Regions from separate parts of the Homo sapiens genome. Here all the other regions are linked to region 1. Evidence: fine-mapped expression QTL. A gene starts in region 1. Each other region holds a variant in brackets. All regions are shown on one strand. Distances are from middle to middle. Region 1 holds the start of TSPAN6 (tetraspanin 6). Region 2 has its middle 12 kb from the start of SYTL4. Region 3 overlaps SRPX2 (sushi repeat containing protein X-linked 2).

Evidence for each region. PIP is the estimated chance that this variant, and not a neighbour inherited with it, causes the effect.
Region 2: its variant is fine-mapped to the expression of TSPAN6 in whole blood (TOPMed, PIP above 0.99).
Region 3: its variant is fine-mapped to the expression of TSPAN6 in transverse colon (GTEx, PIP above 0.99).

What each region holds. Positions count from the first base shown.
Region 1 is chrX:100,633,233-100,641,419 of GRCh38, reverse strand. It overlaps TSPAN6 (tetraspanin 6), which reads left to right and starts at 4,614. Exons shown (of 8, transcript NM_003270.4): 1 at 4,614-4,812; 2 at 5,674-5,862; 3 at 6,168-6,242; 4 at 7,391-7,489; 5 at 7,881-8,015. The coding sequence starts at 4,726. RefSeq lists enhancers at 4,419-5,034, 5,035-5,650.
Region 2 is chrX:100,740,344-100,748,530 of GRCh38, reverse strand. No RefSeq gene overlaps it. Among named protein-coding and RNA genes, the nearest start is that of SYTL4, 12 kb to the right of the region's middle. The variant T/G (reference allele first, on the strand shown) is at 5,081.
Region 3 is chrX:100,654,301-100,662,487 of GRCh38, reverse strand. SRPX2 (sushi repeat containing protein X-linked 2) reads right to left here. Exons shown (of 11, transcript NM_014467.3): 4 at 121-312. Among named protein-coding and RNA genes, the nearest start is that of SRPX2, 14 kb to the right of the region's middle. The variant C/T (reference allele first, on the strand shown) is at 3,190.

The DNA.
Region 1 (8,187 bases):
TCTGCAGCACATACTCAGTGTGTAAAACACAACGTTAGATACTGTGAGGCTACAAAGTAAAATAAAACACCTCTCTTTATGGTTTGGTTGGGAGGATAAGACAAAGGTGGATAAGGAGACTGACAGCATCCAGGCATACTCAATTTCTTAAGTTTCTTAAAGTTCAGTACCATTTTCAACTTTAAGACTTTTAATATGAAGCCCCTCAGCAGTAAATAAGGTATTGTTTTACGAAATATTAGATATGGAAACTGACTTCCCTAGTTGAGATCTCAGGAAAGCTCAACAAGGCTAGACTAGAAACAACTTTCTTAGAAAATGGACATAGAATTGTCAATTTTAATACCATTTAAAAGTATTTATGGCTGGGCGCGGAGGCTCACGCCTGTAATCCCAGCACTTTGGGAGGCCGAGGCAGGCGAATCACAAGGTCAGGAGATCGAGACCATCCTGTCTAACACGGTGAAACCCCGTCTCTACTAAAAATACAAAAAATTAGCCGGGCGTGGTATCGGGCACCTGTAGTCCCAGCTACTCGGGAAGCTGAGACCAGAGAATGGCATGAACCCGGGAGGTGGAGCTTGCAGTGAGCCGAGATGGCACCACTGCACTCCAGCCTGGGCGACAGAGCGAGACTCCGTCTCAAAAAAAAAAAAAGTATTTATCATGTCTATGTGTCCCAAACTGTATATTATGAGCTTTTTTGAAGAAGGCAAGATCAGGGATGGAAAGGGAGGAAAGGTTTCACAGAGCATCTGAAAGGAGTGGATGGAAAACAAGGGCATAAAAATAGACAAAGAATAGAATTTCAGAGAAGGAGAATGGGAATGCACAAGAGACAATAGAAATAAAGAGATATTCCATTAACGAAATGGATTTTTAAAACTGTACATATGAATTAACTGTTTAAATAATGAGGTATCTGATGGCTGTAACATAAAATATGAGATATTAAGAAAATAAGTAGGATGCGCCTTTAAATTCTATGATAGGCACTTAGCCAAAGGTAATTGAAGGGATGCTAGAAAAGGGATTAGAAAATGAAAATGGTAAAGTTATTATGTGAATAAGAGATAAGATGTACACTCAGCGATACAGTTTATTATTATTATTATTGTTGTTGTTATTATTTTAGTGGTTCCTGAGAGAGAGAGGAATGTCCCAAGACATTATCTAGGTACTCAATTTAATTTTTTCTGTTTTATTATAGTGTGATACTGGGATGGCTTAGACATTTAATTTTTTATTTAATTTCAACAATCAATCCTGAGTAATTACTATGTGGTTGCTCCCAGAGACCAGTTATGACCTCAATGAGCAATCAGCTCAACAGGGATTGGCCGAGCAGAAAATGAACTCATCAATTGGGCATTATGTCCTAGGGTACTGAGGAGAGTATAAAAGGGGGCATAGGGGCCCTGCCACACTAGCTCTTCAGTAGTTTCTGAACATCTAGACGGTAGGATGTAGAATAGGTAAGTAGAAATGCAAAGCAGATATTGCAGTAATTGACTAAAGGGCTGGGTTAATGGGAGTGAGTGTGTAGTTAAGACAGTTATGGTGTTAGAGAAAGAGGTGAGGAAGGAGGGACTTTTTACTGAGTTGGGATTGAACTGGATATTCAGTAGAAGCAGAAAGTATGAGTGAAGTTGAGGGTGGGCAGGGACTAGGGAATAGGACTTGTTTAATTGGGGGGTTGATCATACTGACCTGGTACAGAGCAGAAAATTCACATTGGAAAAGCAGTAGGAAATCAGTTGAGATTGTATTGGGATGAGGGGCTTGGTAGGGATGGAGGGAGGCTGGAGGTGGCACAAGGGAGGTCTGACTTAACAGTGAGCCCTTGTTTATGTCATTTCCCTTGCCTGATGTCTAGCAATGAAAAACATTTACACCTAATCTTGAAGGTTACAGGAAATTAATTGGGAAGGGGGGCTACTAAATGTTCCATGTAAAACAAGCAGTAACAATACTTAAAGTATTTTCCTTTTTTCCTACATTGTTGGCATCAAATTGTGTTTCTGTGCTCAGAAAGAGGGAGAAATTAAGAGGTTGAACAAGAAAAAGTACTGAACTCTCTGCCTTACCACTCTGGGGCAGGTAGGGTTACTTCCTAGGTGGCTGGGCTATTGGAGTGAAGGCAAAAGCCAAACTCAACCAAAAAACCCCAAGTGCAAGGCAGAATTGGGGCAATCATTGAGGTTCTTAAGCTTCAGAGGCTCCGAGGAGTCCTTGTTTTAGGTTAAATGTCTGTGCAACAGCAGTCTTTACTCAGGTTACTCTGCGCAGAGGCAGCTGTACGTACAACAGCAGCTATGTTTCATCACAAAGTGGGCCCCATTTCTGATGAAAGACACAGAAGTTGCCCAGGTTTAGTCCTAGGCAGCTTACTTGGTCTCTTTCAACCTGTTTCTTCATCTGTAAAATGAAGGTGCTAGGTGTGTCAACCTCATAATAGGGTTCTTGTGATGTGTGCATACGAGGTAATGTGTATCAAGCTCTTAGCAATAGTGGTTGGTATACAGTCAATACTTATTATCACAGTCATTATTAATACTTTAAAGAATACATTTATCTAGTGGCCTAGGGAAATACTTCTTAAATTGCCTTAAACGGGATTAGATGCCCCTTTGGTCTGGGTTTGTACCCAAACCCAGGCCTAGGTTTGAACTAAATTGAATTTCTCGGTTTGGTGGCATTGTGGGGGTGGGGAGATGGAAGTGGGTGTAGCAGAGTAGGAGGCAATGGTGCAAGGTGTTGTAGCCATAGGAATATGAATTTCCATGTCAGCATTTGGTTTAATTTGGCACCGAGTGTTATTCAAACAAAGCAGCGTTGTGAGTGGTAGAGGAAGGGAGAGGAGGAAAGTCAACACATTCTTGGAAATAAGATGTGGCTTTTGCTTTGCTATTTTGTTTTTTCTTCAGCTACAGACATATTTCTTTGCTCTTGGGCTCACACTGTAAATCCCTTTCAGTACATATCTAAGTTTCAGAGAAACTTCTCTTTAAGATGACAAGAAGTTATCAAGACTTCCCTTGATCCTTGTTTTTAGTATAAGAACCCTTCAGTTGGGGTCATTTAGCCTAGGGAGAAATCTTTGCATATACTTAGACACCCCCCTCCACCATGTTGAATATTTGGTATTTCCTAACGACTTTACCTCAAAGTGTTTGAAGGTGTATGTAGATGTATCGTTTATCCATTCTCTCCATGTATTTGTGTATTAGGCCTTTCAAATTTTAGTAAAAATTTTAGTATAAAGCCTGGCAATGCAATAATTAATTTTCCAACAGTTGCTGCCTTGCACCTCAGACGTCTGGCAAGATGTTATAGGAACTGGTCCTAGGTCAATATTCGAAGCACAGGGAAGCTCTGTGTGACCAAGTCAATGGAACTTTCCTGTGTTCTGGTCCTGAGGTGTATGTTTAAAGCAACGTTTCAAGCAGAAAAGTTTGAGTATTCATCTCTCCTCCACAAATGCAGGTCTTTTTGCAATGGCAATAGAGTAAATAGCCACTTGTGATATTAAGCTTGTGTCAATGATGAAGGGTTGGATTGCATAGGGAACTGATACAGCCTTCTAACCCCGTTCCTCTAGAGATAACACAAACTCACTTAACACTCAGTCTCTGCCTTCAAAGAGCTGACGCTTTAGTTGAGAAATCAGACCTTAACGCACCTCCTGTGTTGTAACAACATAGACCAATATATTCACAATATATAACATTAGGTTTTAATCTCTCTGTAATCAGCTGGGTTTTGATGGGAAAAACCAGGTGGCTGGAATGTACAGTGCCTTTCTGTTTTAACATTTAAGAGGAGGTCACACTCACCAGGGATTTTTCCATTGCACTCTCTCTTTTTAAAAGTTTACAGCGAATAGCTGAACTTACATTTCACTATTATGTAAAAATACTTTCCCTCAACTTTCCAATTACTTAGGGGATAAAAAAGGAGAGGAATACTGGGGTTTTGCAAAGTCCTGCAGGTAAATTCTAAAGTCATTATTATCTTTAATACCTAGCTTAGAAATTCTTTCAACAAGTGGTGATTATTTTCCTCCATTCACATCTCCCCTTCCTAACCCATAAAACAATGTTCACAAATTGAAAAGCACACAAGTGAGAAAAAAATCAGCCTAATTCCACCAGAGGTAAATTTCACTGTTCCTTTCAGTTTTTGTCTAAGCACACGTGACTGTATGTATTGCTTTGCAATCCGCTTTCTTTTTGCAAATATATTTCTTGTGGGTATTTTCCCATGTATTTTCTTAGGTCGCTTTTAACCTCTTCATTCTTTTCCTTCTCTCTAGGGCACCAGGGGCCAGGGAGGCCCAATCTCAGAGCGCTGCGGGCTCTGCTGGTGATAGAAACAATATGGTGAAGTTATAAGGAGAGGGGAGGGGTGGGGGGCGGGAAAGATTCCTTAGGATAGAAAAAAAACAATGAAGAAAGCTCCACTTGAAGACCTATGAAATTTCCGACACTAGAACCTTTGTATATAGTTTTCGGTAACCTTCGGCAGGGGGCGCTCTGAAATTGTTGCCACTTTCCGGACAGCCTCCCATACTTTACCCTCTACAAAATTGTACAGTGTTTCCGGCCCTTCTCAGTTGTGGACGCTCGTAAGTTTTCGGCAGTTTCCGGGGAGACTCGGGGACTCCGCGTCTCGCTCTCTGTGTTCCAATCGCCCGGTGCGGTGGTGCAGGGTCTCGGGCTAGTCATGGCGTCCCCGTCTCGGAGACTGCAGACTAAACCAGTCATTACTTGTTTCAAGAGCGTTCTGCTAATCTACACTTTTATTTTCTGGGTGAGAGACGAAGGCGCCTGGGGCCGGCAGGGGATCCCGGGCTTTTAGTTGTGGGGGGTGTGACCCTGAGCGGCGGGAGCTCAGGTCGGGAACGGTGTGGGGTTTGGGCGGCCATCGCGCCTGGGACCCCGACGCCGGCGACCAGTGACTGGGCCCCGAACAAAGAGCTCAGGCATCTCGCCGGCGCTGGGGTCGGAGTGCGGGACGAAGGCAGCCGAGAGGCTGAGCTGGGACCCAGACGTACCAGCGTTCGAGTTCGATACGGGAGGCGAGGTGGGGCCTTAAGCCCCCAGAGCACGCAGACGGTGACCCTGGACCTTTGCAAAGGCAAGCAAGGCTTGCCCGGCCCCTTTGAGGGCTCACTTGCATAATAGTGTCTTTCTTTTCACTGCTTCGTAAGAGAGGAGTGTTTCGCAGGTAAGTATGGTATGCCTCCACTCCCGCCAGTCTATCCTTGGGCTTGCTTTTGTGTACCAGTCCTTTGTACCCTGTGCCCATCCCTACCTGGAGAGGACGGGGGAAGTTTCTGGAACTCATAAAATCACGTTTTTTTTTTCCCCTTCAAGGTTTTCTTCCTAAGGTTGGAGTAAGATAGTTAAGGAAGTTTTGATCCCTAGGGCAAATATGCCATGGGCTTGTGTTTACACACAAAAAGATGAATTTTAAGAATTTTGATAAGATACCTGGTCCACAGCCTGCTCTTGTGTGCAGATCCCCCCCTAACCCCTTCTACTCTTCCCCCTTGTCTGCCGTATCCCAGCATATTACACCTATTGTGCCTTAAATACCTCATGCGTTGTGATTTGAAGATGCTGCTGTACACAGTGCGTAACTGTTTGTATTCTCTGAATTCCCACATAGATCACTGGCGTTATCCTTCTTGCAGTTGGCATTTGGGGCAAGGTGAGCCTGGAGAATTACTTTTCTCTTTTAAATGAGAAGGCCACCAATGTCCCCTTCGTGCTCATTGCTACTGGTACCGTCATTATTCTTTTGGGCACCTTTGGTTGTTTTGCTACCTGCCGAGCTTCTGCATGGATGCTAAAACTGGTGAGTCCTTGTTTTCATTAGAATTGATTCTTGGTTTTAGAAAAGTTTTGTATGTTATAGAATTCCTTTGTTGGAACTGGCCATGGCCCTTTACAATTTTTCCTGTTCCTTATGGAAACTTATCAAGTAACAGTTCAGCTGCCAGTTTCCACTTTCAAAATAGACATGTTGTTATTTTCCCTGCCCTTTTCAATGAAAACATGATGAACTAATTGAGAAGACGACCATTATTTTTTCTTTGACTCCCTTTGCAGTTGTGCTATATCTTATTTATGCTGACTTGGACTTTCTTTCTTATCCTGCAGTATGCAATGTTTCTGACTCTCGTTTTTTTGGTCGAACTGGTCGCTGCCATCGTAGGATTTGTTTTCAGACATGAGGTAAGCCTGAATTAGGGAAGCTTAGCATGTTACATTTATCCTCTGAGAGATAAAAATGGATTTATTAAAGTAGAAGAGTCAGACCTCTGTATTTAAACCTGTAGCTGACAATAATGGCCTTCTTGTAAAAATTCTGGTCCACTTCTAATTTAAAAGAAAATTTAGAAAATTGTAAAGACTGATAGTCACCAGAAGAAAATTACTTACTTATATTCCCTGTCGTTTTTCTGTGTATAAATACCTATTAAAACGGAGATAGTACAATTTATAACTTTGCTGATAGGAAAATATTCAAAGCACAAAATTGATAACCTTCTTATGCCTTGCATTTTGAAAAGATTGGATATACTTAATGCAAATCATCAGAAGTTTAATATTGGGCCGGGCGCGTTGGCTCACGCCTGTAATCCCAGCACTTTGGGAGGCCGAGGCAGGTGGATCACGAGGTCAGGGGATCGAGACCACCCTGGCTAACACGGTGAAACTGTCTCTACTAAAAATACAAAAAAAAACAAAAAATTAGCCGGGCGTGGTGGTAGGTGCCTGTAGTCCCAGCTGCTCGGGAGGCTGAGGCAGGAGAATGGCATGAACCCGGGAGATGGAGCTTGCAGTGAGCCGAGATCGCGCCACTGCACTGCAGCCTGGGCAGCAGAGCGAGACTCCATCTCAAAAAAAAAAAGCTTAATACTGAATTAGAAAACAGGTAAACTTGGGGTTGTTCAAATAACATTCGGTGAGTAGCAAAGGCTCATTAATGAGAGTTCTCATAAAGTGGTAGCACAGCCTCCCAAAGTAAGGTTTTGTAGCTTACAAATTCCATAGGCATCGAATTTGAACTCAGTTTAAAGTGGAGAAAAATTAGCAGGGTGCAGAATACAGCAATACTGCATTGCCACTCAGATAAATACATATTCCCACAGCACTTTGAACTTGTAGTGGTTCTCATCATATATTTTAATGTTTTGCTTAGTAGTCCCCTCAGCTAACCTATACCCCTTAGAGGACAGGACTGTACCATGGAAGTTAATTACTATACATGTTGCTGCTGTCAAAGATATGACCATTGGTCAGATTCGAGAACTTATTTGACCTGAAACCAAAAACTTTCTAGAGGATTTTCTTACTGACATTGTGTTTCTTTGCTATAGATTAAGAACAGCTTTAAGAATAATTATGAGAAGGCTTTGAAGCAGTATAACTCTACAGGAGATTATAGAAGCCATGCAGTAGACAAGATCCAAAATACGGTAAGTGGTAACCACCACCTAGAGGGGAACACATTCCCTGTTGCCTCAGAGAAAAGAGCAGAGTCTGGCTACTAGATGTTATCCACCTGTAGGGGAAAGAAGTGTGACGTGTTTCATTTTCCTCACATGTGCACCTGTTCTCTTCCTTCCCCACTTACATCATAGTCCAGGTACAGTTAGTACCAACTATAGCAGGAAAGTAAGGCCAATACAAAACTGTCATGCATGGTGCTAATCAGGGACCCAGTGCTCATCTCTTGAATCAATTGAGGAGAGAGATCATTGAGATTAGTAAATGTTTTGAGCACAAATTGCAATAGAGGATATTAGGTTAAATGTTTGACTACAAAGTTGTAATATAAACTGTAAATGCTTTTGTTGGGTTTTTCAGTTGCATTGTTGTGGTGTCACCGATTATAGAGATTGGACAGATACTAATTATTACTCAGAAAAAGGATTTCCTAAGAGTTGCTGTAAACTTGAAGATTGTACTCCACAGAGAGATGCAGACAAAGTAAACAATGAAGTAAGGTGCCTTTTAAAATTTTCTATTTGGCAATATTTGAAGACTTAACTGAATGCAAAATTGACCCAGTTTTTAATTTTTTTTTTGAGATAGAGTCTTGCTCTGTCGCCCAGGCTGGAGTGCAGTGGCGCGTTCTCGGCTCACTGCAAGCTCCGCCTTCCAGGTTCACGCC
Region 2 (8,187 bases), 110 kb before region 1:
AAGTCAGGAACTTTCACCTTTTCACTTAAAGCAAATACTTTACAACTTCTCTTTGGCATATCTGAATTGCCAGCATCCCTATTCTTGTGCTTTGGGGCCATTATTAAGCAAAACAAGGGTTCCTTTAACACAAGCACTGTGATACTGCCACTGTTGATCTGATAACCTAGATGGCTCCTAAGTGACTCATGGGCAGGGAGCATATACAGCGTGGATACACTGGACAAAGAGATGATTCATATCCAGGGTGGGACTGAGTGGGACAGCGTGAGATCTTATCATACTACTATGAATGACACAAAACATGAAACTTATGAATTGTTTATTTCTGAAATTTTCCATTTAATATTCTAGGACCACAGTTGACCAGGGATAACTGAAACTGTGGAAAGTAAAACCACAGATAAGGGGGGACTACTGCATATACATAAAATGGAATATTATTCAGCCTTTAAAAAGAGTGGGATTCTACCACTTGTAACACATGGATGAACCTGGAGGACATTATACTAAGTAAAATAGTCTAGACACAGAAAGACAAATACCACATGATACCACTAATGTGGAATCTAAAATGTCAAACTCATAGAGGCAGAGAGTAGAATAGTGGTTGTTGGGGGCTAGGGAGAGGAGGAAATGGGAAGGTATTAGGAAATGGGAAGGCTTTAGTTACGCAAGATGAATAAGTCCGAGACATTTCCTGTACAGCATGGTGCCTACAGTTAACAATACTGTATTATATACTTAAAAATTTGCTAAGAGAGTAGATTTTATGTTGTGTTCTTATAAAAAATAATAAATGAAGAGAGCAGGAGGGAACTTTTGGAGATGATGGATGTGTTTATGACATAGATTGTGGTTATTTTTTCAGGTGTGTATACTTTTCTCCAAACTCTTCAAGTTGTAGACATTAAATATGTATAATTTTTTATGTCAATTATTCCTCAATAAAGTGGTTTTTCAAATAAAAGGAGTAGACTGCTAGATGGTCTTTATCTCCTACCTTCATCCAGTTTTTACTCTTCCTAGTCCCTCCTTATGTCTTAGGAGGTTTACTCCTATGGACTGCATATTCTTGGTTCCCTTGCCTTGGCTTGCATTGGGTTTGGTAAAGGGTTAAAAATAATAGGAGATCAGAGAGTGAAGGAGCGAGGCGTCAGGGATATTTCTTCCCTACACTCTCTGCTGTGCACTGCATCCCTGGCAGTAGCTGCATTCTTAAACAACTAGAGCACCCACTGGCCAACTCCTCCTCCATAGACTCAGCACTTGCTGGCCTCTGGTAACTGTTTCTTCGCTTATCCCTTGGCTGTAGGGGTGGTAACAGTTTCCCACTCAAACCTCACTATCCCTTGTTTCTTCTGTAACAAGGTCTATAACCCTGACCACTTCCTATAAATGGTTTTTCACAAATTCTCTTCATTTGAGCCATTTGGAGTGAATTATTTTTCTGCTGAGGCCGCACTGATAACATGTGTTCATATCTTCATCCTTTGCCTTATCTCCATGATTTTAAAGAAAAATAATGCTGGAAGTGAAACTCCCCACTTGGGTGTTTTTCTGTACACTTTCAGGGCTGTTCTACAGTGCTTGGAGATAGAGCACTAGGGAAATACAAATGATTCATCTGCGAAGCTTACCTTTTTAAAAGAAGAAAATTGAAAAACCTACACAAATAATACATGATCAAAACAGAAAATTTAGGAAACCACAAAGAGGAAAACAAAAATTTTCAGTAATCCCACTCCACAGAAATAATCACTGTTAACATTTTGACGGACATCTTTTTTAAACTATGCATATTGAACTTGTATGCTTCTTTTAAAAACACACAGTTGCTGAGGCAGTGCCAGCTTGAATTCTTGGGCTTTTGGAATTACCATAACTGCCCCATCTGTGGTAGTGTGGACAAAGCAGGAGCAATTGAAGAAAAGAGAAACACCGTGGAGGAGGAAACAGACCTGGGGAGGTTTCACAGATCAGTCCCTTTCTGGACTGTCATAATTGATGCACTGGATGGACCTCACCCACACAAAGTCCTGCTACACTGGGTTGGGCTTGTGTGCTCTTTGGGAGGGGCGCCTTCTACAGTTCTCACACTCAGAGGAATCTATGCCAGAAGCATGAATAAATAAGTCACAGTTGCACAGCTGGCTGCCCTGCACAAATCTCCTTTAGAATACATGGAAACCTCTAGAGCCTGAGGCAGTCCAGAGAGAGAAGTAAAGAACTAATTAATTCTCCACCAGCCCTGAAAAGGTTAATCCCAAATTGACTGTGAAATACAAATGTGTCCCCACAGGGCAGAATCTAATCTTATTTTGGGTAATAACTTCAATCCTCTGAATTCGAGCTTATTTGCTAGATGCCAAGGTCATTTTGTTTTCCTTCAGAATCCGAAGAGCCAAAAATCCCTGTTATTTGATTCCTGTGTCTCCTCAAAAGAAATGACACTATTATGTACGCGTAGAACATCTTGTTCTCTGTATTTGCTTTTCCACTGCCCGGTGTTATGCTGACCCCAAATAACCAACTCTTTTGTCATGATGTTTATAAATTAGGCTGGGAAAATAGCCTCCAGAGAGAAGGAATTTGTACAGGCAGAGACATACAGAGTGGAGGCTACTCTATGCTGGCTGATTTGGTGTCAACACATAGTCTTTCTTCCTAGAGGCCTCCCGTATTATTATTTACTTCACTACTTCACAGCAACTGAAACATCAACTGTCTACCATTTCCCCTTTCTGGACAGTTAGCAGTAGCAACAGAAGGATGGAATTTGGACACTATTCTTCTTGCTCGTTCTTTCTATTATTTTTCAAGCCCATGGTTTTCACTTTTAAAACATCCTGTTTGGGAGTCTGCTTTTTTGAAGATCTAACAAAAGAGATAACAATGTGAAAAATTTGTCAAAGAACAATCATAGGACTTGGAGCACAGAGGAACCCAATCTTCTTATTTTTTTAAAGAAAATACTAATTTTCACTTTAACTCTGCTTGTCAAATACTTTTCTTTTGGAAATCTTGTTGTACCTTTTCAGTTCATGCTGAGGTGAGGTAGTTGTACATTTACTGAGCTTCAAATAGAAAGGTATCTGGGCAGGGTGAACTCTCAATAAACTTGTTTGTTTGCTTAAAATGAGTGCCAGGACTCGACAAATTTGCAGAAGCTCCCTAGTAACTGCCTTCACATCTTACTGCAGTTTATTTGTGTCAAGCCTCATTCTTACATACCTTTGGATACACAGTAAGAACAATTTTAAGATTGTCAAGTAAGAGTGCAAGAAGAATAATAAAGAAAATTTTAGGAAAAGGAAGCAGGGATTAAACCCAGATGAAGCGATTTGCAGATAGCTCCTCCTTGTAAGTCTGAAGAGAGAAATTTTGAGCTGCATTATGAAAAATGGAATGGCAACAGCAAGGTAGTGGAGATGTGACTTCAAGATCCTTGAAGATGAAGCTTGTGATATTAGAGTAGATACAAGCATAGTGGGTGGAAAGGCTATTAATGCAAATTATAGCGTGCAATGTTCTGCTTATACGCTGCCTCAGCCCAAACTGCCCTTTGCATTGAGGCAGCTGTTGACAATTGTGTAATTGAGGCATTATAAGATATGTACACTCCTATTACAATGACCACCATTCCTGTGAAGCATTATGAATGGTGCTAGAGCAGTGTTTGATGGTATTCCTAATAACAACAGAAAAGTTGCACAGTCCATGTTTTTCTCTGAATCTGGCTAATGCAATAGTTACTCCTTGTAAGGGAAAAATAGTTTAGTAGTGCTGTAACTGGTTACAGTAGAAGAATTCCTGTGATTGTCTTCTGGAGCATTGAGACCATGTCCCACTTCACAGAATGGGGGAAAAGGATTATTGAGAAGCAGCCCAAAAGGATAGAGGGGGTGGCAGTACTTTCGGAAAGAGAAAAGAAGACTGAATCCTAGGGACCTTTGGCTAGGGAGTCTTGGCCTGAAAAGGGACCCTGAAGTTGCATATTAGAAAGGCCTATATGTGGCTGGGCGCGGTGGTTCACGCCTGTAATCCCAGCACTTTGGGAGGCCGAGGCAGGTGGATCACGAGGTCAGGAATTCGAGACCAGCCTGGCCAACATGGTGAAACCCCATCTCTATGAAAAATACAAAAATTAGCCGGGCTTGGTGGCTAGCGCCTGTAATCTCAGCTATTCGGGAGGCTGAGGCAGGTGAATTGCTTGAACCCGGGAGGAGGAGTTTTCAGTGAGCCGAGATCGCGCCACTGCACTCTAGCTTGGGTGACAGAGTGAGACTCCATCTCAAAAAAAAAAAGGCCTATATGTTGGATATATCATATTTATCATAGTATATTATTATCATAATGAAATATAATTTTGCAAATGAGAAACCAAGGAATAGTGAGATAACTGCCACAGTCATTTAAAAAAAAAAATTGAACAAGTTCACATCTTCTGATTCCCAGCCCAGGCAAGATCCTATTGAACTACAGTGCCCCTAGATGGAAATATACCAAAGGCAGATGCGTCCTACTCAAGTGAGGAGACTCAAACAGAGGGTTAACTGGACTTGGAGTGAATGCCAAACTGCTTTTTTTTTTTTAAGTTTGACAGCACAAACAAAATGTTGCAAGCATTAGAAAACATTTTAATTTTTTTGTGCCTTGAACACTGAATCATCCTTGTGTGGTATAATAGGAAGACATTGGATTTAAGCCCCTGTTTCTTCATTTAACATTAATGTGTTACCTAACTTATCTGAGCCACAGTTTTCTCATCTGTAAAGTGGAGATAATAATAGTGCCTAATTTATAGTGCTAATGTGATGATTAAAAGAGATGATACATTATAGAAATAGCTCAACAAATAATTATTTTCCTCTCTTTTTCCACTTGTATAGGAGTTTGTCTAATGTGCTTAGCTTGAGTCAAAAAAGTGGCTTTAAAGTGTTCTCTGAATTTAAAGCCCCATCTTACAAATGGCCCATCTCTCTGTAAGTGAATGTTTTCCCAAATATGGGTTTTAGCATGTGTGCAAATGTGTTTTGCTCATCAGCAAGACCAAATGAAACCCCAGCCCACAAGAATT[T/G]TATCTTTATGACTCCTTTTTCCTCTTGTCATTATCTTGGACTCCAGAATGCAGGACTGAATTTCACAGAAAACGCTGTAATTCAGCACAAGAGAAACAAGGCTGAAAAGTGCACCACAGCTAAGGGGCAAGGTTTCTTAGCCTCAGAACTACTGAGCTTGGGGCTGGACACTTCTTTGTTGTGGGAAGCTGTCCTGTGCATTATAAGATGTTTAATAGCATCCTGGGCCTCCACCCACTAGATGCCAGTAGCACTTCTCTTTTTGGTTGTGACAACCAAAAATGTCCCCTGGGCAGGGGGAAGCAATATTGTTTTTGGTTGAGAATAAACCCTAGGAGAAATAAATCCGCTAGTTGTTTGGCATACAAACACCCTATGGGGTAGATAAATTGAATCTGTAGGAGTGACTAGGAATTCAAAGTGCAAGGGGGAGTGAAGGAAAGAAGAGTCTGGGCAGAAGAACAGTTTGGATTTTAAAAGGGAACCTATTTCATATGCAGGCCTTATGAATACAGAGGTTAATAAGACATAGATCTTGATCTCGAAGAGCTCATGTTTTAGTGGTAAAGGCAACCACTTGAAAAGACAATGCAAATACTGTGTAGTGAGTACTATGTCAGAAATTTTTATAAAGAGTGTTATGGAACAATGGGAGCATAGGGGAGGTACACCCACACTAGCAAGGTACAGGAGAGGCTTTCCAGAAGAGATCATATCTGAGTCAAAGGATAAGTAAGGCTTAGCCTGGAGAAGATAAAAGGAGGATGGAAGAGCCATGAGAGAACTTGGTGTTTGGAGGAAAATAAAAATCATTTAGGTTGCCTAGAAACAGAATGGTCAAGACAAAGAATGGTAAAATAGAAGCTTGTAAGGCAGACAGGGAGCAGATCATGAAAGTCTTTCAAAGCCATGTATAAGACTCAGTTTTGAGAACCACCGAGAGCCATTGAGTTTCTCCATGATCCTATTTATTTGGATTTGGGGAAGACTACTTTGGCAGTGGTGTGGAAAATAGACTGGAATTAGGGTAACAAGTCAGGAGGCTGTTTGTGTAGTTCAGGAGAGAGATGATTATGGCCTGAGTTAAGGCAGTGACGGTAGGAAGGAATTTAAAATCTACTTAGGTGATGAGAACAACAGGATCTAGGGACTAGTTAGGTGTGGGGACGGTTTCTGTTTTGTGCTACTAAGTAGATGGTAGTGCTATTCACTGGGATAGAAAACACTGGGGACAGAAAAGATTTGTAAGGAAGATGAAGTTTAAGTTTGGAAAAGTTGAATTTGAGGTGGTTGTGATCATTAAGGTGGGGATGGCTGGTAGCCATTAAACATACGAGTCTGAAAATCAGGAGAAAATGTAGGGTAGAGATACAAGATTGAGAGTCAACAGGGGGAAATTGAAGTCATTGGGATAGTTACCCTACTTCCAATCTATTTTCCATACCACTGCCAAAGTAGTCTTCCCCAAATCCAAATCGGATCACGGAGAAACTCAGTGGCTCTCGGTGGTTCTCAAAATTGAGTCTTATACATACATGACTTAGAAAGACTTTCATGATCTGCTCCCTGTCTATCTTACAAGCTTCTATTCTAAGATCATCCAAGGAGAATGAATATACTGAAGAGAGATGAGGACCAAAGACATTCCCATGGCTTGCTTCTGTACTTTGTTAGTGTCACCTCTTTTGAGAGGCTTTGCTTGACTAACATATATAAAATATTACTCTATTCCTTTGATTTTTTGGGTAACGTTTCACTATCCCATATTATGTTATATATTTAACCCACTCGCTTTTTGGTTACTCTCAGATATTTACAATAGTTTAATTTGTAGGCACTTAAAAGTTCAGTCAAATCAAAACTTCCATCTCACATCCAGTTTAAAACTTCTCCTCCAGTCCCCAACCTCCAGTGCAGCTTGACTGGCAATCCCACAGATCTCTAGTGAGAAAAGTGACTTGGTCTGTTCTTTTATTCTTCTTGCTCTACCTCCTCCCCTACTTGTTCTACTGCTTCTGTCTCCTCCAGGGCTTAGGGGTGGGGTGGGTATGGAGAGGGGAATCTTAAAGGGACAGTGAGAAGCTGAATTGACTGGTGCTGGTGTAATCTGGCTATGAATATCCTCTGTGACATAGATGCCCAAATACTGCCTTTTCTTGTAGTGTTCCTTCTTGGTTTATTCAGGGACCTTCTAACTCCTCTTCCTGCTAGCAGGGATCTCTTCCCTACACTATTCCCTGATAGGAACAATGTACCATCTGACCCTCTTCCCCCTTGGCTGTTGCCCCCACAACTTTCTATTCATGGGATCCTCATTTTTATGCGGAGTTGCCAGCTATGCTCAAAAGAAACTACCTGGTCCACAGCAAACATGGTCCCTTGGAAGTCTAGATCTCTTTCTTTGCTCTGCCATTATGAGCAATTTAAACCAGGCTTCTGCCTTCAGATTTTAGGTAAAAGTCAAGTATAAGTTTCTATCTTTTCATAGCACTAGAGGACATATGCGAGGTTCTCTCATGAACTCATCCTGTTTCAGTAGCAACAAAGGCTAAAGTTTCTGTAGTGCAGCAAGCCTCCAGCCTGGGAGTGAGATGTCAGTCTCTCTTCAAAAGGTTTACTTAAGATCTTTTTTGTTTCGCTCGAGCAGGGGAACCATAGTGCTTTCTACTCCAATGAGTTCCCTTCAAAAAATCCTCTTTGTTGCTTCAATTAATCTCTAGAATTATCTTATAATAATTCTGGAGTTGAGTGGTGGGGATTAGTAATTGAAATACCAGTTTGGTTACCTCTTAGCAAGTCCTGTGGGAATCTGTCTAACATCCCTCTTTAGAATGTATGACTACCCCTAGTATGTATGTCTTTAACTTTGAAGCCTCAGTCAAAACTTTGGGAAACAACAGAAAAAGTCCCATTTGACATCCTTTTCCAAATATATGTAGCAATATACACATAACCCCATATACTTACAAATATATATCTTGTGTGTATATGTATTATATACACACACACATGAATATGATATATTTATTTATTTATTGCTGAGAGACAACACAGAGTACTAGTTAAGACTATGGAATCTGAAGCCACACTGTCTGGCTTCAAATAC
Region 3 (8,187 bases), 21 kb before region 1:
TTCTCAATTTGTACTTGAGAGAAGGGCATATTAGTAACACCTCCGGGCATATACCCTCAGCAGCTGGCTGGCTGGCTTCTCTCGCATACATACATCAGCATATGCACACACACAACTTACGCCTGCAGTAGGCAGTTCCAGACCAACGACGGCTTGGCAGGCATTGCACCGACCTCCTTCCAATCAATCGAAAGCCCCGGTCACAGGAGAGCTCACAACGCGTGCCCAGGCTGCTGTGATAATTTCCTCCCTTCGGTGAGTAGCATGTGGCTTCTCCATCCTGGATATTTAATGTATAACACCATCGGGGGACTGTAGCAATAGAAGAAAGGCAAGCTAGAAGTATAGTAATCAAGACAGTGTGGTGTTGGTGAAAAGACAAATAGGTCAATGGAAAAAAATAGAGAGCCCAGAAGTAAACCCACACAGGTGTGTTGAAATGATTTTTGACAAAAGTGCAAAAACAATTAAGTGGAAGAAAGATAGCCTTCAAACAAACGGTGCTGGAGCACTTGTACTTCCATATGCAAAAAAAAAAAAAAAAAAAAAAAAAACCCCACCTCGACCTAAGTCTCACACCTTATACAAAAATTAACTCAAATGGGATCATGGACTTGAAAAAACAGGAGAAGGTCACTGGGATTTAGGGCTAAGCAAAGTGGTCTGAGGTATGACACCAACAGCAGAATTAATAAAAGAAAAATTAAAATTTGTTTTTTTGAGACGGAGTCTCACTCTCGCCCAGGCTGGAGTGCAGTGGCGTAATCTCAGCTCACTGCAAGCTCCGCCTCCCACGTTCACGCCATTCTCCTGCCTCAGCCTCCTGAGTAGCTGGGACTACAGGCGCCTGCCATCATGCCTGGCTAAGTTTTTGTATTTTAGTAGAGACGAGATTTCACTGTGTTAGCCAGGATGGTCTCGATCTCCTGACCTTGTGATCCTCCTGCCTCGGCCTTCCAAAGTGCTGCGATTACAGGCGTGAGCCACTGCGCCCGGCCAGAAGAATTAAATTTTAATAAATAAATTAATGAATTAACAAATTGGACCTTGTCAAAATTAAAAATTGCTCTGTGAAAAGACAAAGCCATAAAAGGGACTAGTATTTAAAATATAGAAAGAACTCTCAAAACATTGAAAAAGCAAACAATCCAGTTAGAACATGGACAAAAGATATAAGCACACATGGCACTGAATAGGCTACACCGATGGCAAATAAGCACATGAAAAGATGTTCAGCATCATTAATCATTTGGGAAATGCAAGTTAAAATCATAATGAGATACTACTTATATATCCATCAGGGAGGGTATCCTTAAAAAAAACTGGTAATACCAAGTGTTTGTGAAGATGGAGAGAAACTGGAATTCTCATATATGGCTGGTGGAAATGCAAAAATACAGCCACTTTGGAAAATATTTTGGCTATTTCTTATAAAGGTAACACCTACCTTCTTATAAAGAAAGGTACACTTACCATACGACTCTGCAATCCCACTTAAAGGTATTTATGCCAGTGAAATAAAAACCTGTGTCCACACAAAATCCTGTACACGAGAGTTAAAAGTAGCTTTATTCATAATTGCCAAAAGCTGGAAACAACTCAAATCTCAAATGTCTTTCTTTCTTCTCTTTTCTTTTTTTTTTTTTGAGACGGAGTCTCCCTCTGTCACCAGGCTGGAGTGCAGTGGTGCAATCTCGGCTCACGGCAACCTCCACCTCCTGGGTTCAAGCTTGATTCTCCTGCCTCAGCCTCCCGAGTAGCTGGGACTACAGGCGCCTGCCACCACGCCCAGCTAATTTTTGTATTTAATTTTTGTATTTTTAGTAGAGACGGGGTTTCACCTTGTTGGCTAGAATGGTCTCGATCTCTTGACTTCTTAATCTGCTCGCCTTGGCCTCCTAAAGTGCTGGGATCACAGGCATGAGCCACCGCGCCCAGCCTCAAATGTCTTTCTATGGGTGAATGGCTAAACTAACTGTGGTGTATTCATACAAAAGAATGAAGTGCTGATACATGCAACAACATCAATCAATCTCAAATTTATTTTGGGACGTGAAAGAAGCCACACTTGAAAAACTACATACTGTAGAGTTCCATTTATATAACAAAAATATAGGGACATAGGCAAAAATACAGTGACAGAGTACAGATCAGTGTTTGCCAGAGATTAGGGGTAGAGGTAGGGAATAACATCAAAGGGGAAGCACTGGGCAAGATTTTGAAGTGATGGAACTGTCTCATACTGTGGTGGGAGTTATGTGACCCTATGCAGTTGTCAAAACTCACAGAACTGTACACCAAAAAGAGTGAGTTTTTCTGTATGTATGTTTAAAATAAAAATTTAAAGGATAATACAAAAATGTAAACTAGAGAGAGGAAGGGAATGTGACATCAAAGAAGGAAGAAGGCTTCTTAGGAATTAAAGTCCAATCCCAGTTCAGTACTGAGCACAAAAGGTTATAAGGCTGTTAAATCATAAAGGCATCATAAAGATGCCTCACAGGCTATACAAAATAAATGACTCTTTAGTGGGTTCAGAGTTTAAAGGGGCACATATAAACAAGCAGAGGGCCGCCTGCCCAAGGATGCACACACACAGCATGGCACGGGTCTGTTGGCCTAGGGTTGGGAAGGCTAAAGCCCCATGTGAGTTGACTCAGTTCCCACATCCTAAGGGGGAAAAAAAAAAAGCTTTGAAAAAAAAAAAAAAGAAGTAGATGAGACACCAAAGGAACAAAGAAAGGCTAGAGCCTCTTTCTGAGTGCAACTGGAGAATGAAGACAGATGACAGTGAGAAATCTTTTCTTCAGTAAACACTACTCTTGGGGCTTCCAGCATTACTTTTGAGCCTGTGGCAGTGACACATGGCTGCCATCTGGAGACACCATCTCCAAATTACAGAAAGTCTTTTAAGCACTACAGTTGCAGAGCTGTTGATTATAAGGCCACAACACATATCACAAAGACCTTATTTGGCAGGCTGGGACCTCAACAATCACTCCCATTCTATATCGCTCCCATAGTCTGTCAAGGAAAATACACATCAGATTGGAATCGGTAGAATAAGTAAGAATGGTAAAGGGAAATATAAAGGTCGGTCTAAATGCTGAGACAGTAGGAGAGGCCCCAGCTATTGTAAATAAGTTCAAATTTTCCGACCCAGAAAAAATCCTGGCATAAAGACAAAAA[C/T]GTTGAAAGGCTGGAGAAGAGCAAACACAATCTGTTTTCAAATAAGGAAGAAGTCTCTGGGAACTATAGCCTAGTGACACTGACAGCACTGATAGCATAGTGTTCTAGAATATTTAAACATAAGGCGTATGGCAGTTACCCAGAGAAATAGTGATCTCCAGGAACCCTCTGGAACAAGTAATTCCAGACTGACCTAATTTCCTGTTTGGGTAGGGTCACCAGACTGGTAGAGCAGGGGAAATGGTGGATACACTATGTGGAAGTAAGTGAGGCATGTGACAATGCTTTTCATGTCATTGATGTGGATGAGATGTAATACAGGAGAGGTGACAATATGGTTAAAAATTCATAAGTGGCTGAGCAACTGTACCCAAAGAATGCCCATGGGAAACTGAAACGAGGATGTGGTTAAAAGAAATCAAGAAGGCAATTCCATTTACAATAGCTACAAAGAAATCTAGAAATAAACTTAACCAAAGAAGTGAAAACCTTTACACTGAAAACTATAAAACATCGATGAAAGAAATTAAAGAGGACACAAAAATAGATATCCCGTGTTCATGGATCAGAAGAATTAATATTGTTAAAATGACCATATTGCTCAAAGCAATCTACAGATTCAATGCACTTTCTATCAAAATACCAACATCATTTTTCACAGAAATATAAAAAGCAATCCTAAAATTAATGTGGAACTAAAAAAGAGCCAGAATAGCCAAAGCAATCTCAAGCAAAAAGAACAAAGCTAGAGGCATCACATTACCTGACTTCAAAATATATTGTAAGGCTATAGTAACCAAAACAACACAGTATTGGTATAAAAATAGATATATAGATCAATGGAACAGAATAGCAAACCCAGAAATAAATTCACATATTTATAGCCAACTGATCTTTGACAAGGCCATCAAGAACATACACTGGGGAAAGGACACTCTCTTCAATAAATGGTGCTGAGAAAACTAGATAACCTTATACAGAATAATGAAATTGGACACCCATCTCTCATATCCAAAAATTTACTCAAGGTGGAGTAAAAACTTAAATGTAAGACCCAGAAGTATAAAATTACTAGAAGAAAACATAGGGAAAACTCCTCAGGATATTGGTCTAGGCAACAATTTTATGGTTAAGACCTCAAAAGCCAGGAAACAAAAACAACAATAGACCAGGAAGACTATATTAAACTAAAAAGCTCCTGCACAGCAAAACAACAACAAACAACTGAGTGAAGAGACAGCCTCTTGAATGGGAGAAAATATTTGCAAACTACTTATCCATCAGGGGACTAATAATGTCCAGTATATACAAGGAACTCGAACAACTCAACAGTAGAAAAACAAATAATTCCATTAAAATATTGGGCAAAGGGGCTGGGCGCAGTGGCTCACGCCTGTAATCCCAGCACTTTGGGAGGCCAAGGTGGGCGGATTACGAGGTCAGGAGACTCCGTCTCCAAAACAAAAACAAAAAACAAAAACAAAATATTGGGCAAAGGACATGAACAGATATTTCTCAAAAGAGGACACACAAATGGCCAACAGATATGTGAAAATATGCTCAACATCACTAATCATCAGGGAAATGCAAATCAAAACCACACAATGAGATATCATCTCACCCCAGTTAAAATGGCTATTATTAAAAAGGCCAGGCACAGTGGCTCATGCCTGTAATCCCAGGACTTTGGGAGGCCTCCGCAGGCGGATCATTTGAGGTCAGGAGTTTGAGACCAGCCTGGCGAACATGATGAAATCCCGTCTCTACTAAAAATCCAAAAATTAGCTGGGCATGGTGGTGGGCACCTGTAATCCCAGCAACTTGGGAAGCTGAGGCAGAAGGATTGCTTGAACCCAGGAGGTAGAGGTTGCAGTGAGCCGAGATCATGCCATTGCACTCCATCCTGGGGGACAGAGTGAGACTCTGTCTCAAAAAAAAAAAAAAAAAAAGACATAAATAACAGATGCCGGCCAGGATGCAGAGAAAAGGGAACCATACATTGTTGATGAGAATGTAAATTAATATAACCACTATGGAAAACAGTATGGAAATTTCTTAAAAAATGAAAACTAGCCAGGCGTGGTGGCTCACACCTGTAATCCCAGCACTTTGGAAGGTCAAGACAGGTGAATCACCTGAGGTCAGGAGTTCGAGACCAGCCTGGCCAACATGGTGAAACCCCGTCTCTACTAAAAATACAAAAATTAGCTGGGCGTGGTGGCGGGTGCCTGTAATCCCAGCTACTGGGGAGGCTGAGGCAGGAGAATCGCTTGAACCCAGGAGGCAGAGGTTGCAGTGAGCCGAGATGGCGCCACTGCACTCCAGCCTGTGCAACAAGAATGAGGCTCCATCTCGAAGGAAGGAAGGAAGGAAGAAAGGAAGGAGAAGGAAGGAGAAGGAAGGAAAGGAAGGAAGGAAGGGAGGGAGGGAACTAGCACTACCGTATGATTCAGCAGTCCCACTACTGGGTACCTATTTAAAGGAAAAGAAATCAAGATATCAAAGGGATCTGCATTCGTGTGTTTATCACAGCACTATTCACAATAGCAAAGATATGGAATCAACCTAAGTATCCATCAGTGGACTAATGGATAAATAAAATGTGGTACATATACATAATAGAATAGTATTTGGCCATAATAAAGAATGAAATCCTGTCATTTGCAGCAACATGGATGGAACTGGAAGACATTATGTTAAGCAAAATAAGCCAGGCACAAAAAGACAAATACTGCATGTTCTCATTTAATTGTGGGTGCTAAAAAGTTAATCTCATGGACATAGAGAATAGAATGATAGATACGAGAGACTGGGAGGGGTAAGTGGGTGGCAGAGGGGATGAAGAGAGTTTTGTTATGGATACAAATCTATAGTTAGAGGAAATAAATTCTAATGTTTGATAGCAGAATAGGGTGACTATACTTAGCAACAATGTTTTGTATATTTCAAAGTAAGTAGAAGAGAGGACTTGATACCAACACATAAAAATAATAAATACTGAAGGTGATGGATACCGCAAATACCCTGACTTGATTAGTCCACAGTCTATGCGTGTGACACTCAACATGTGCCCCATAAATATGTAAAGTATTATGTACCAATAAAAGAAAAAAGAATGTGGTTAAATACTGTATGGCTGGCTGGGCGTGGTGGCTCACCCCTGTAATCCCAGCACTTTGGGAGGCCGAGGCAGGCGGATCACCTGAGGTCAGGAGTTTGAGACCACCCTGTCCAACATGGTAAAACCGGGTCTACTAAAAATACAAAATTAGCCGGGTGCCGTAGTGTGCGCCTGTAATCCCAGCTACTTGGGAGGCGGAGGCAGGAGAATTGCTTGAACCTGGGAGGCAGAGGTTGAAGTGAGCCAAGATTGTGCCGTTGCACTCCAGCCTGGGCAACAAGAGCGAAACTTTGTCTTAAAAAAAAAAAAAAAAAAAAAAAAACTCCCCCACCCCACCTAAAAAAACCCCAAAAATACTGTATAGCAAAATTGTCTGGTAGGAAGTGTGTAAGTCTTTATTGTGTATCTCCTGTGTTCTAGGCACCATGCTACATGTTTTCCTTTTCACATATATCATCTTATACAGTTCTCCCAACAGCCCTGTAAGGTATGCAGGTGTTTATCCCTCTTTTGCAGATGAGGAAGTAAATTGCCCAGGATCCCTAAGCAAGTAAGGGGTAGAGCTGAAATTTGAACCCAGGCTTTGTCTGCTCCAAACTCCATGTCCTATGTAATTGCAGTGTCTGCCACTGCAGATATAAAATAGGCTACTATTTTGAAGTAAACACTGACCTTGTTGAATAGATAATATATCCGCATGACTCAAAACCTCAAAAGTATAAAAAGTTACAAAGTAAAATGTCTTCCCCCAACCCCTGCTCCCATGCCCACCCCGACTTAGTCCCCTCCCAAATAACTACTTTTAATAGTTTCTTTGTGCCTATAAAGCAAATGTTGGTATAGCTTCTTATTTTTCCTTCCTTTTTAATACATAGAGTAGCATATTATGCCCACTCTTCCCTCCATTGCTTGTTTGGTAAACTTAACAGTGTATTTAGAGATCTTTCCATATCACTACATAGCAAGTGTGCAATTTATTTAAATGAAATAACATTTATAAAATACATAGCACAGTGACTGGCACATAATAGGTGTTTGTCCAGAGTCCAAGAGCTGGAAGGGGGAGAAGCGGAGGTTTGAACTCAGGCCCATTGTCTCCGCTTTCTGTAGCTATTCATCTGTCTATCTCTTTTTAAGGTGTATGCAGAAAATAAAGTGCTGACGAGAGTTTTGAAAGGGCCTTCTCTGTTGTCTTCTATTATCTTCAGATAACCCAGGCAGTGTGACTAGCTTGCTCAGGGATGAGGCAAGCTGCAAGGAAAGCAGCAGCCCCAGCTGACTCCAAGCTAGGAGTTGGGATAAGGGAATGATAGAAAGTGCAAGATGAGTGAAAATGATAGCAAATGACATGCCAATTTGCTCTAAAATAATGATTTGGTTGTTCTTTTTTTTCTGGTCTTCTTTTTTAGAACAATGAGTTAATTTTTGATGAAAGAGATGAATTAAGCATGGCTTTAGAGTCAGACAGATCTGAGTTTAAATTCTCTGTGACTCTCTGAATCTAAAACTTCCCTGAGCTTAGTTTCCTGGTTGGTAAAATGGGGGATAATAAACCGTTCCATAGGGCTGTTGTGAGAACCAAATGAAATTTCATGTGTAAAATATTCAACCCTGTGAATGATTTTCCCTAAGTCAGTGTCTGGGTCTGAGCCAGTGTCCCATCTTTCCTAAAGCAGCAACATGCTGTGGTTCCCAGCATTCGTTTTGAGCATGTGACTGAGACACACTACTGCCATCTGGAGACACCATCTTCAAATTACGGGAAGTCATTTAGCACTACAGTTGCAGACCTATTGATTATAAGGTCACAAAGACTTTACCTGGGAGGCTGGGGCCTCAGGTTGTACTTTTCCTGGCCACTCCCTCCCCCTCATCAT